Regions from separate parts of the Homo sapiens genome. Here all the other regions are linked to region 2. Evidence: fine-mapped QTL for protein levels in blood plasma. A gene starts in region 2. Each other region holds a variant in brackets. All regions are shown on one strand. Distances are between the middles of the regions.

Region 1 (2,679 bases), 520 kb after region 2:
CTCTAGGTTAAGCAGGGAGAAAACACCATAGGGAAGGAGAAAAATGTCTCTAGGTTCCTTGGGAGAGGCCAACGATATAGAAATCAAAGCATTTAAGCAAAAGAAACTGTAACAACTGTTTCTGTTCTTTTCATAAAGCTAGATTGTGGATTTCTATGTTCCAAGGTAGTTACACGGGGGTTTTTTTTGTTTTGTTTTTTTGTATTTTTTTTTTTGTTTTGCTTTGTTTTTGAGATGGGATCTCACTCTGTCACCCAGGCTGGAGTGCAGTGGGCAATAATGGCTCACTGCAGCCCTGACCACCTGGGTTCAAGCAATCCTCCCACCACAGCCTTCTGAGTAGCTGGGACTACAGTCACACACCACCATGCCTGGCTAATTTTTTTTTTTTTTTTTTTGGAGATTGAGTCTCACTCTGTCACCCAGGCTGGAGTACACAGGCTGGAGTACAATGGCGCAATCTGGGCTCACTGCAACCTCCGTCTTCTGAGTTCAAGCAATTCTCCTGTCTCAGCCACCCAAGTAGCTTGGATTACAGGTGCTCGCCACCACACACCCAGCTAATTTTTGTATTTTATTAGAGACAGGGTTTCACCATGTTGGCCAGGCTGGTCTCGAACTCCTGACCTCAGGTGATCTGCAGGCCTTGGCCTCCCAAAGTGCTGGGATTACAGGGCGTGAGCCACAGTGCCTGGCCTTTTAAAAAAAATTTTTTTTGTAGAGGCCAGGCTTGGTGGCTCACACCTGTAATCCCCAGCATTCTGGGAGGCCAAGGTGGGTAGATCACAAGGTCAGGAGTTTGAGACCAGCCTGGCCAACAAAGTGAAACCCTGTCGCTACTAATAATACAAAAAATTAGCTGGGTGTGGTGGTGGGCACCTGTAAAACCAGCTACTCGGGAGGCTGAGGCAGGAGAATCACTTGAGCCCGGGAGCCGGATGTTGCAGTGAGCCAAGATCGCGCCACTGCACTCCAGCCCGGGAGACAGTGCGAGACTCTGTATCAAAAAAAAAAAAAATAGGGTGATGGGGGTCTCCCTATGTTGCCCAGGCTGGTTTCAAACTCCTGGGCTCAAGTGATCCTCCCACCTTGGCCTCCCAAAGTGCTGAAATGACAGGCATGAGCCACCAAGCCCAGCCAAAAAATATGTTTAAAGCAACTCCCAGATAAGCCCATTTTATTACAGATTTTCAAGTAATTGCACATGAGAGTGACATATCATATACACACACTGTGCTATTTTTTTTTTTTTTTTTGAGATGGAGTCTTGCTCTGTTGCCCAGGCTGGAGTGCAGTGGCGTGATCTTGGCTCACTGCAAGCTCCGCCTCCGGGGTTCACGCCATTCTCCTGCCTCAGCCTCCTGAGTAGCTGGGACTACAGGCGCCTGCCACCACGCCTGGCTAATTCTTTGTATTTTTAGTAGAGATGGGGTTTCACTGTGTTAGCCAGGAGGGTCTCGATCTCCTGACGCCTGCCTCGGCCTCCCAAAGTGCTGGGATTACAGGCGTGAGCCACCGCGCCCGGCCCCACACTGTGCTATTAAATTCAGATGCTGGCTGTGAAGGTACACTGGGAACATTTGTCCCCCTGCACAAAGCAGCTAACCTCCGGGCTAA[G/C]AAATAAATGGCTTGGAGGAAATAGCTCTAACACTACAAATCATTTTATAAATTCTCGTTCACACTCTCCCTTCAACCAGTCTTCATACTTCAGTAGCTGCTACAGGACATATGTAATTAGGTAGAGAGAAACTGGGTTTGGAGATGAGAACCACACTATACAATGCACACCGTAAAGCCTGGAACTGCTCCCCTGAGCTCATACCAGTCCGCCCAATGTTCTGTCCTTTCCAGAAAGGTGGGAAGGTGGTATTTGGGCTTCATACAATTGGGATATGCTAGTTGAGGGCCTAGCGGTAAACTTCCCAGAAAAAGGAAAAGACGGAAAGCAGATTGAGGCCAGAGGGAGGAGGCCCACATGAGAAGGGGGCTAGAGAAGGTATCCTCAGCCAGACGTGGTAGCTCACACCTGTAATCCCAACACTTTGGGAAGCTGAGGCAGGTGGATCACTTGAGCCCAGGAGTTCAAGACCAGCCTGAGCAACATAGGGAGATCTCATCTCTCTCTCTTTTTTTTGAAACGGAGTCTCGCTCTGTTGCCCAGGCTGGAGTGCGGTGGTGCAATCTCAGCTCACTGCAACCTCCGCCTCCCAGGTTCAAGTGATTCTCCTGCACCAGCATCCCAAGTAGCTGGGACTACAGGCACGCGCCACCAGGCCCACCTAATTCTTTTTGTATTTTTAGTAGAGACGGGATTTCACCATGTTGGTCAGGCTGGTCTCGAACTCCTGACCTCAGGTGATCCACCCTCCTTGGCCTCCCTAAGTGGTGGGATTACAGGTGTGAGCCACCGCGCCTGGCCAGAGATCTCATCTCTAAAAAATAAGAATAAAAATAAAAAAATTAAAACCTAGTTGGGCATGGTGGTGTGTGCCTGTGGTCCCAGCTGCTTGGGAGGCTGAGGTAGGAGGATCACTTGGGCCTGGAAGGTTGAGGCTGCAGTGACCCAAGATCGTGCCATTGCGCTCCAGCCTGGACAACAGAGCGAAACCCTGTGTCAAAAAAAAAAAAAAAAAAGAGAGAGAGAGAGAGAAGGTATCCTCAAGCACAGCCAAGTCACAG
Region 2 (2,679 bases):
TGCCTGAAACAACTCAACAGCTGGAAAAAAAGAAATGAAACGATGGCTCTGAAAATACTAGAAAAGCAGCACAGGACAGAAGCAGATCACCTTGATTCCAGGGACCTGAAATCTTCTCTGGAACAACACAAGATACAATTTAAATGTAAATTAGGGTAGGCCCAGTGGCCCACGCCTGTAATCCCAGCACTTTGGGGGACCAAGACGGGAGGGTTGCTTGAGCCCAGGAGTTGGAGAACAGCCTGGACAACATAGGGAGACCTAATTTCTACCAAAAAATTTCAAAAATTAGCTGGGCGTGGTGACACGCACCTATAGTTCCAGCTACTTGGGAGGCTGAGGCAGGAGGATCGCTTTAGCCCAGGAGGTCGAGGCTGCAGTGAGCCATGATCATGCCACTGCACTCCAGCCTCGATGACAGAGACCCTATCCCCCCACGCAAAAAAAGGAAATGAATTAACATTAATTCCTCTCAAGATGCCCAGGCTCTATTCACCCCCTTTGTCATTGTCCCTCCAGTTGGAAATTCCTCCCTCCCCCCGCAAAATCCCGCCCACCCTTGGAGGCCTTTTCAGATCATTCTTGCCAGATGAGCTCCCCTTGTCCCTTCTCTGAGCCCAAAGGGGCCCAGCTGCTGTCTGTCTCCCTCCTTCCCCTTGTTTCCCGCGCTACCTCCAGGGCACTTCCCAACTCACTGGCCAAGCCCCCAACGAGCGGTCTATGCTAACTTTGGCTCTGTGAATTTCCTAGAGTGTCATGGGTTGGGGAAAAGCGCGCGAAGTCCTGCCTTGCAGCAGGCGCGAGAGCAGGCGCTTGGGACGCGGGTTGGGGCAGGGGCCCCGGGACGTAGGGGGACGTCTGCGCGGCCCTGCGTCCCCGGGACAACCTGGCCTGGGCTTACCCACGGCCAGGCGCTCCGCGGAGGGCAGAAGCGGGCTGGGCCAGGCTCCTCAGCGCCAGGCCCGGGCCGCAGTGCCAACCCCGCAACGGCACTGGACATGCAAGAGTCGGCGTCAGTGCGCGTGAAGCCGGAGCATTATCAGGCTCAGCCAAACGCGGCCCGGTTCTTGGGCTTTCCGCTCTTTCTGTGGGGCAGAGAGGGAAAGAGGCCTCGAGTCGTGCGGGCTCCAGGCTCCGGGCTCTGGGTGAGGCCTGATCCCTGCTCCCACCCGGCCACCCTCATTCTCCAGTTGTATCCCCTGCCAGAGTCTGCAGCCTCGGGCCGCGGCGTGGTTGCCTGGGAAACGCTTGCGCCTGCGCAGGGCTTCCTAGGCGCTGGAGTCCGCCGGCGGCCTCGCCGCTGCCGGCCGCTCACGGAGGAACTACAATTCCCAGGAGACCGCGCGGTGGGTGGGGGCGGGGTAGTGGGCGGGGCATCGGCAGGCTAGGTTTTCTCCGCGCAGCGCCAGTCGCAGAGGAAGATGGCGCCGCGGAGGGTCAGGTCGTTTCTGCGCGGGCTCCCGGCGCTGCTACTGCTGCTGCTCTTCCTCGGGCCCTGGCCCGCTGCGAGCCACGGCGGCAAGTACTCGCGGGAGAAGAACCAGCCCAAGCCGTCCCCGAAACGCGAGTCCGGAGAGGAGTTCCGCATGGAGAAGTTGAACCAGCTGTGGGAGAAGGCCCAGCGAGTGAGCGCGGCCCGCGGTCGGTGGAGCGGGGCCTGGGGGCGGGGGCCGTGGTTGGGGTCGTTGGAGCGGGGCCCAGGGGTCGGAGGCGGAGGGGGGCGCAGCCGGGGCACCTGTGCCCTACGCGCCCTGTCCTTGGCACAGCCTCCCCCAAGTGTCAGGTGGGGCGCCCCGACCCCTTCTGCAGCAGGAAAGGTACCCGTGCCGGCGACGACGCCGTGTGAAGCAGGTGGCGGCCGGCACCCCGAGGGTCAGTGTCGCCCTCCCCAGCCTGGGCGGCCTGCTGACCCGAGCGTAGGGACAGAACCAGGCTAGATCACAGGTCTCCTGCCTCCCGAGCCTTTGCCTGTTCCCTCAACCTTATCTCCCTATGTGGGGAAACAAGAAAAACAAAATGTTGGGTAGAAAGACGTGTCCAGGGACAGAAGGAATCCCAGTAGCAAGCCCGTGCTTGTTCATTTGAGCGAGAAATGAGGAGGTGAGGAGATGGGATCGGTTTAGAGCACATAAAACGCGACCTTGGGAATGCTGAAAGTCAGTCTTAACAGGGCGCTCACCTGACCTCTCCTTCATTTGAGAGATGAGGGTACGGAGGCCCCGAGGGGAAAGGGCACCCCCAAGGTGGCTCGGCCGGTGGGGCCCCCCGGGACAACAGCTTCCTAATTGGTGCGTGACCCTGGGCCAGCTGCTCTCTTCATTAAGATACGGTTGCTTCATTTGTTAGGTGTTCCTGAAAACACCTGAAATGGGTGTTTTCGAACTATGCCGACCATCTGGGCCTCATTATCTCATCTCAAATGCAGGAGTCAGATTAGATCTCTGTCTCAATAGTCCAGTTTTAAGCATTCCTGAGTCTTTGAGAGGGAAAGTAAGTGATTTGCAGAATAAGAAGGAACTTTTGGAACGAAAAGGGAGAGGAGAAACAGGTGGGGGACAGACAGACGACAGACGGTTATAAGACTGCGTGGGGATGGGGATTGACGCCTGGGCATCAGCTCCACAGGCCCTTCCTGAACTGCTCCTGGGACCAGCAGTCAAGCCCCAGGCGTAATGTTCA
Region 3 (2,679 bases), 33 kb after region 2:
CAGAGCAACTCTTTCAGGCCGAAGGGTCAGCCCCGGACACCTGTGAGGCAGGAGGCCTGGCCGTGGGCCCTGAAAACTTCCTGTTTGCACCATGGCCCGGAGACCGGCCATGCCTGCTCCTGCGACTGGGAGCTCCCTGGGGACCAGACCACGCCCAACAGAAGGGGCTGGCCTGCCGGGGGCCACGGGGCCGCACAGCGCACCGGGTTTGCGGTCAGCTCCTGGCGCTGTGACCTCACTGCGGGGCTGCCTTCCTCTGCTCCAGCTCCGACAGCTGCTCCTCCCGGGCCCGTGCGTGCCGCACCCCCACTCTGTGCGCCGTCTCGGTGGCCATGATGTCGATCTGGGCGTAGAGGGAGGCGCCAGCCCCTGAAAGAATTCTGTAGTGAGCGGCAGCCTGCGCCCCGAGCCACCCAGCCCTGTGACCCTGCCCTCCACACCAGTCCCCCAGCCAGGCCCTCGGAAGCATCTGAGTGGGGACACCCTCAGGGGATGTGGCCTGGCCAGGGATGGAGTTGGGGACATTTGCCTCCTGGGGGGAGGCTGTAGGAAAAGCTCCCTGGCCAAGGGCTGCTGGGTGGGGCTGGGGGCTCAGGGCCCTGAGGCTGTGGTCCCAGCCCCCAATTGTCAGTGCCTCCACGCAGGGCGGGGACCCACCTCGGACACCCTCGCTGGCCTCCTGGAGCTCCAGGCCCATGTAGTGCAGCTGCTTTCTGGAGGATGGGCTGACGGGGATGTTCACGTAAGTGGGCGACTCGCCGCGCGGCCTCTCTGGTCCTGGGCTGTCCACAGCCACGGGTCCTGGGGATCCTGTGGGGGGAGCGGCTGTGAAGCCCCGGTGGGGACCGAGAGGGGCACAGATCTCAAAGATTGTGCAGTAAAGAGCTGCCCACCCTGCCTAGCCCCTCCTCCCCACTCCGCCTCTCCTGCACCTTGGAAGTTCCCGCTCCATGTTCCTGACCGTCCATCTTTGGCCCAGCGCTGCCCCATCCTGAGGCCCCCCCCACACTGTCCACTCCTGGTCCAAGTACCCACAGAGCAGAAGGAAGCGCTGTCCCCTCCACTGTGCCGCCTCCCCTGCAGGAATTGCCGACCCCCCCATGGGCCCCCCAAGGCCCACTCTTCTGTCCCTGCGCCCCTCGCCCCGCACCTTCCCAACTCTCTCCACCAACCGCCCCTCCTTGGCTGTCCCAGCACCTTCTCTACCTAACCCTCCCGGGCCAGCACAGCCCTGCTTTGTCCTGGCCCCCAGCACCTCCCCCTCACTGTCCTCCGGGGTCACCCCCACCTGCTGCAGGCTCCAGGGACCCCCTCCTCTCCTGCACACAGGCCCACGCTCCCTCTG[C/T]ATCCCCTCCAGGACACCCAGGTGCCCCACACCCTCTCCCCCCTCATAGGAGCTACTCCCTTCCCCCGACCCCCTTCCTAATAGCTGATGGTTCTGTCTGCACACCCCATTGGTGCTGGGGAGGGCAGAGCAGGAGCAGGATAGGAGGGGACCCCACAGGCCCGGCTGGGTGGGACTTGAGGCAGGCTCCCACCTTAGGGGGTTGGACGCACACCGGCCCCTCCTCTGCAGGCCTGAGGGCTCCGCACCGTGGGCACCCAGGTTCTACAGGAAGGACCCCGTTCTCCAGTGCCTCCTCCCATTCTTGTCATCAGGACCTCGTGAGGGAACGCACAGCCACGTGAGGCAGGGGAGGTGACAGCAAGTCCCCCCCCATTCCCTGAGCCAGTGGCTGGGAGACACAGCCAAGCCCCACCCACAGTGACCTCCCCACCCCCAGCACACTCCGAGCCCTCAGAATTCAGGTGGGGGCTGGGATCCAGCGGGTGACAGCCCTGCAGGGTCGGCCTCCCTGAAACACCTGCCTGTCCAGGGGAGGGGCCTGACTCAAGGCTGGGCCTCCCTGCCCCAGGGATGCATCCTCAGCAGACCAGGTTCTCCTGTGGCCACCCGCTGCCCGGCACCTGCCGCAGACATCCACTCTGCCTGGCTCCTCTCACCCTTGTCCCCGTCACTCCCTGCAGCAGGGCTAGGGGTGAGGAACTTTCACTTGCTTGCTCCCAGTGGGGAAACTGAGGCCAGGGAGACCTGACTCGCTGATTCTGCAGGCAGCAGCTGGGACAGAGCGAGATGGAGCCCAGGTCGACGAGGGTTCGCTCACCTGATTCCATGAACTAAAGCAACCAACACAATTCTGCCCCAACCCTGCCTGGCCCTGAGGCCCTGGGGAGACCCCCCTCCTGCAAATGTGTGGTCCTAGAGGGCTGGTCCCCTCGGAATGCCAGGACCCCTTCATCGAGATGAGCCACAGAACATAGCGGCCAAGTTCTGGTGCCCAGGCAGGCACCTGGGCCAGCAGGGACAGGGCCAGCAGGGCCAGCTGCCTAGAGGAGGGGGCATGGCTGAGGGGCTAGGCCAAGAGGGGGTGGTGGGAGAGGCAGGTGGGGTGAGGGCCTGGGGAGAGCTGAGGGAGCGCCGGGGCCTGGCGTCTGGAAAGGGGGCCTTGAAGCCAAGGGGCAGGGCCGGGGCTTGCCCACGGTGGGGCTGGACACCCCCCTGCAGCCTGGTACCTCGTTTTAGGATTGCATCCGTTCTTCCAAGTTTGCTCCCAAGGTTGGGCGGTGAGGGGTGAGGGTGGAAGCAGGAAGGAGCATGAGGCCTGACTGCAGGGAAAG
Region 4 (2,679 bases), 920 kb after region 2:
GTGGTGGGCGCCTGTAGTCCCAGCTACTTGGGAGGCTGAGGCAGGAGAATGGTGTGAACCCGGGAGGCGGAGCTTGCAGTGAGCCGAGATAGTGCCACTGCACTCCGGCCTGGACAAAAGAGCGAGAGACTGTCTCAAAAAAAAAAAAAAAATGGATTTGATCAAAATATAAATCTTTTGCTCTTCAGAGGACAGTGCTGTATAATGAAAATGCCAGTCACACGCTGAGAGAAAATGTTTGTGAAGCCTGTCTAATAAAGGGCTTGTATTGAGATTATATAAAAATATCTCACAACTCATTAAGACAACTCAATAAAAATGAGCAGAAGATCTGAACAGCCACTTTTCCAAAGAGATACAAATGGAAAATAGGTACATGAAAAGATGCTCAACAAGTCGTTAAGAAAATGCAGATTAAGCCGGGCGTGGTGGCTCACGCCTGTAATCCCAGCACTTTGGTAGGCTGAGGCGGGTGGATCACCTGAGGTCGGGAGTTCAAGACCAGACTGACCAACATGGTGAAACCCCGTTTCCACTAAAAATACAAAAAAAAAATTAACTATGCATGGTGGCTGGCGCCTGTAGTCCCAGCTACATGGGAGGCTGAGACAAGAGAACTGCTTGAACCTGGGAGGTGGAGGCTGCAGTGAGCCGAGATTGAGCCACTGCACTCCAGCCTGGGTGACACAGTGAGACTCTGTCTCAAATAAATAAATAAATAAATAAATAGAAAATGCAGATTAAAACCATAATGAAGGATAACACTACAAACCACTAGAATGGCTGTAAGTAAAGACTGCCAATATCCAGCACTTGGCAAAGATAAAGATCAACTGGACCTCTCATACGTGGCTGCAGAACAGTATAAGCACTTACCCTATAGGACTCAGCAATTCCACTCCCAGGTGTTTATCAAAGAGAAGTAAATTGCATCCACTTAAAAGACTGATACTCGGCCGGGCACGGTGGCTCATGCCTGTAATCCCAGCACTTTGGGAGGCGGAGGCGAGTGGATCACCTGAGGTTGTAAGTTTGAGACCAGCCTGACCAACATGGAGAAACCCTGTCTCTACTAAAAATACACAACTAGCTGGGCGTGGTGGTGCATGCCTGTAATCTCAGCTACTTGGGAGACTGAGGCAGGAGAATCGCTTGAACTTGGGAGGCGGAGGCTGCGGTGAGCCGAGATCGCGCCATTGCACTCCAGCCTGGGTGACAAGAGCGAAACTCCATCTCAAAAAAAAAAAGACTGATACTCAAATGTTCCTAGTAGCTCTACTCATAACAGCCCAAACTGGAAAATACAAACGTCTCTCTATTGATGAATGGATAAACAAATTGTGGTTTATCCATACAATGGATTATTACCCAGAAATAAAAGGAATTAACTATTGCTACATGCAACAACAGAGATGACTCTCAAAAGCATTATGCTAAAGGAAAAAAGCCAAAGATCACCACTCAGCTTATCTTTCTGTAAGGCTAACTCAAGTCAATCTGGCAA[T/C]TTTGAGTAGTTCCAACAAATTACATTAGCAACTACTTTCATGAAGTTCACTGCAAAGAAATCTGTACGTTTCTAATATGACCTAAAACCCAACAGGGCAAGCATTCAAGGTAAGGACCAATACTAGCAAACTCTTAAATGGCTGGTTTAAGTTGGGACTATATGCCTTGATTGATCTATGGGCGTAGTAACCATTGGGTAACAATTCAAGATAATGACAAATACTAGCGAGTTTTTTTTGTTTTGTTTTGTTTTTGAGACAGAGTCTCGCTCTGTCGCCAGGCTGGAGTTTAGTGGCGTGATCTCGGCTCACTGCAACCTCCAACTCTCTGGTTCAAGCGATTCTCCTGCCTCAGCCTCCTGAGTAGCTGGGATTACAGGCACCCGCAACCAAGCCCAACTAATTTTTGTATTTTTAGTAGAGATGGGGTTTCATCATGTTGGCCAGGCTGGTCTCAATCTCCTGACCTCAGGTGACCCATCTGCCTCGGCCTCCCAAAATGCTGGGATTACAGGAGTGAGCCACTGCGCCCAGCCAGCAAACTCTTTTTTTTTTTTTAAGACGGAGTCTCGCTCTGTCATTAGGCTGGAGTGCTGTAGCGCCATCTCAGCTCACTGAAACCTCAGCCTCCCGGGTTAGAGGGATTCTCCTGCCTCAGCCTCCTGAGTAGCTGGGACTACAGATGCACAACACCACACCCAGCTGATTTTTTATATTTTTAGTAGAGACGGGGTTTCACCGTGTTAGCCAGGATGGTCTCGATCTCCTGACCTCATGATCCACCCGCCTCGGCCTCCCAAAGTGCCGGGATTACAGGCGTGATCGGCCTAGGCCGCCGTGCACGGTGGCCTACGCCAGCAAACTCTTAAATGGCTTAAGTTGGGACTATATGCCTTGATTAATCTATGGGCATAATAACTATTGGAGAACCCAGTTCCTTAGTGTAAAATGCAACTTACATTTTAATAATATGATATATGAGAATAAAGACAACTGCTAATGCCCATAATCAAAATGGAGTCTAAAACAGCCTTGAAAACAGAAAAATAGATAGAAACTTAAGACTACTTGCCGAGTAGTCTTCTTTATGACAGGATGCTTGAGTTCAGGGCCCTTTAAAGAAAAAACAATTACCCCAAAGTGCCATCCCCTCACCGTATCTCCCACCAGACTA

Direction of the effects. Alleles are on the strand shown, and positions count from the first base shown. The strength of an association depends on the size of the effect and on how common the allele is.
In carriers of allele C in region 1, the plasma level of the protein whose gene starts at base 1,412 in region 2 tends to be higher than with G alone (weak association).
For the plasma level of the protein whose gene starts at base 1,412 in region 2, C is the high allele of the variant in region 3 and T is the other (moderate association).
With allele C in place of T in region 4, the plasma level of the protein whose gene starts at base 1,412 in region 2 is higher (moderate association).

What was found. PIP is the chance, under the fine-mapping model, that this variant and not a neighbour inherited with it causes the effect. Protein levels are from antibody-based Olink assays in UK Biobank. Linkage for the fine-mapping came from a reference panel and not from the study's own genotypes, which makes the PIPs less certain.
Region 1: its variant is fine-mapped to the plasma level of the LRPAP1 protein (UK Biobank, PIP above 0.99).
Region 3: its variant is fine-mapped to the plasma level of the LRPAP1 protein (UK Biobank, PIP above 0.99).
Region 4: its variant is fine-mapped to the plasma level of the LRPAP1 protein (UK Biobank, PIP above 0.99).

Annotation. Positions count from the first base shown.
Region 1 is chr4:3,014,252-3,016,930 of GRCh38, reverse strand. All of the region lies in intron 8 of GRK4 (G protein-coupled receptor kinase 4), which reads right to left. Among named protein-coding and RNA genes, the nearest start is that of GRK4, 52 kb to the right of the region's middle. The variant G/C (reference allele first, on the strand shown) is at 1,618.
Region 2 is chr4:3,531,155-3,533,833 of GRCh38, reverse strand. It overlaps LRPAP1 (LDL receptor related protein associated protein 1), which reads left to right and starts at 1,412. Exons shown (of 8, transcript NM_002337.4): 1 at 1,412-1,625. The coding sequence starts at 1,422. RefSeq lists silencers at 1,173-1,232, 1,673-1,922 and an enhancer at 1,423-1,632.
Region 3 is chr4:3,498,382-3,501,060 of GRCh38, reverse strand. It overlaps a transcript of DOK7 not described here. Among named protein-coding and RNA genes, the nearest start is that of LRPAP1, 33 kb to the left of the region's middle. The variant C/T (reference allele first, on the strand shown) is at 1,346.
Region 4 is chr4:2,609,312-2,611,990 of GRCh38, reverse strand. All of the region lies in intron 2 of FAM193A (family with sequence similarity 193 member A), which reads right to left. Among named protein-coding and RNA genes, the nearest start is that of FAM193A, 74 kb to the right of the region's middle. The variant T/C (reference allele first, on the strand shown) is at 1,505.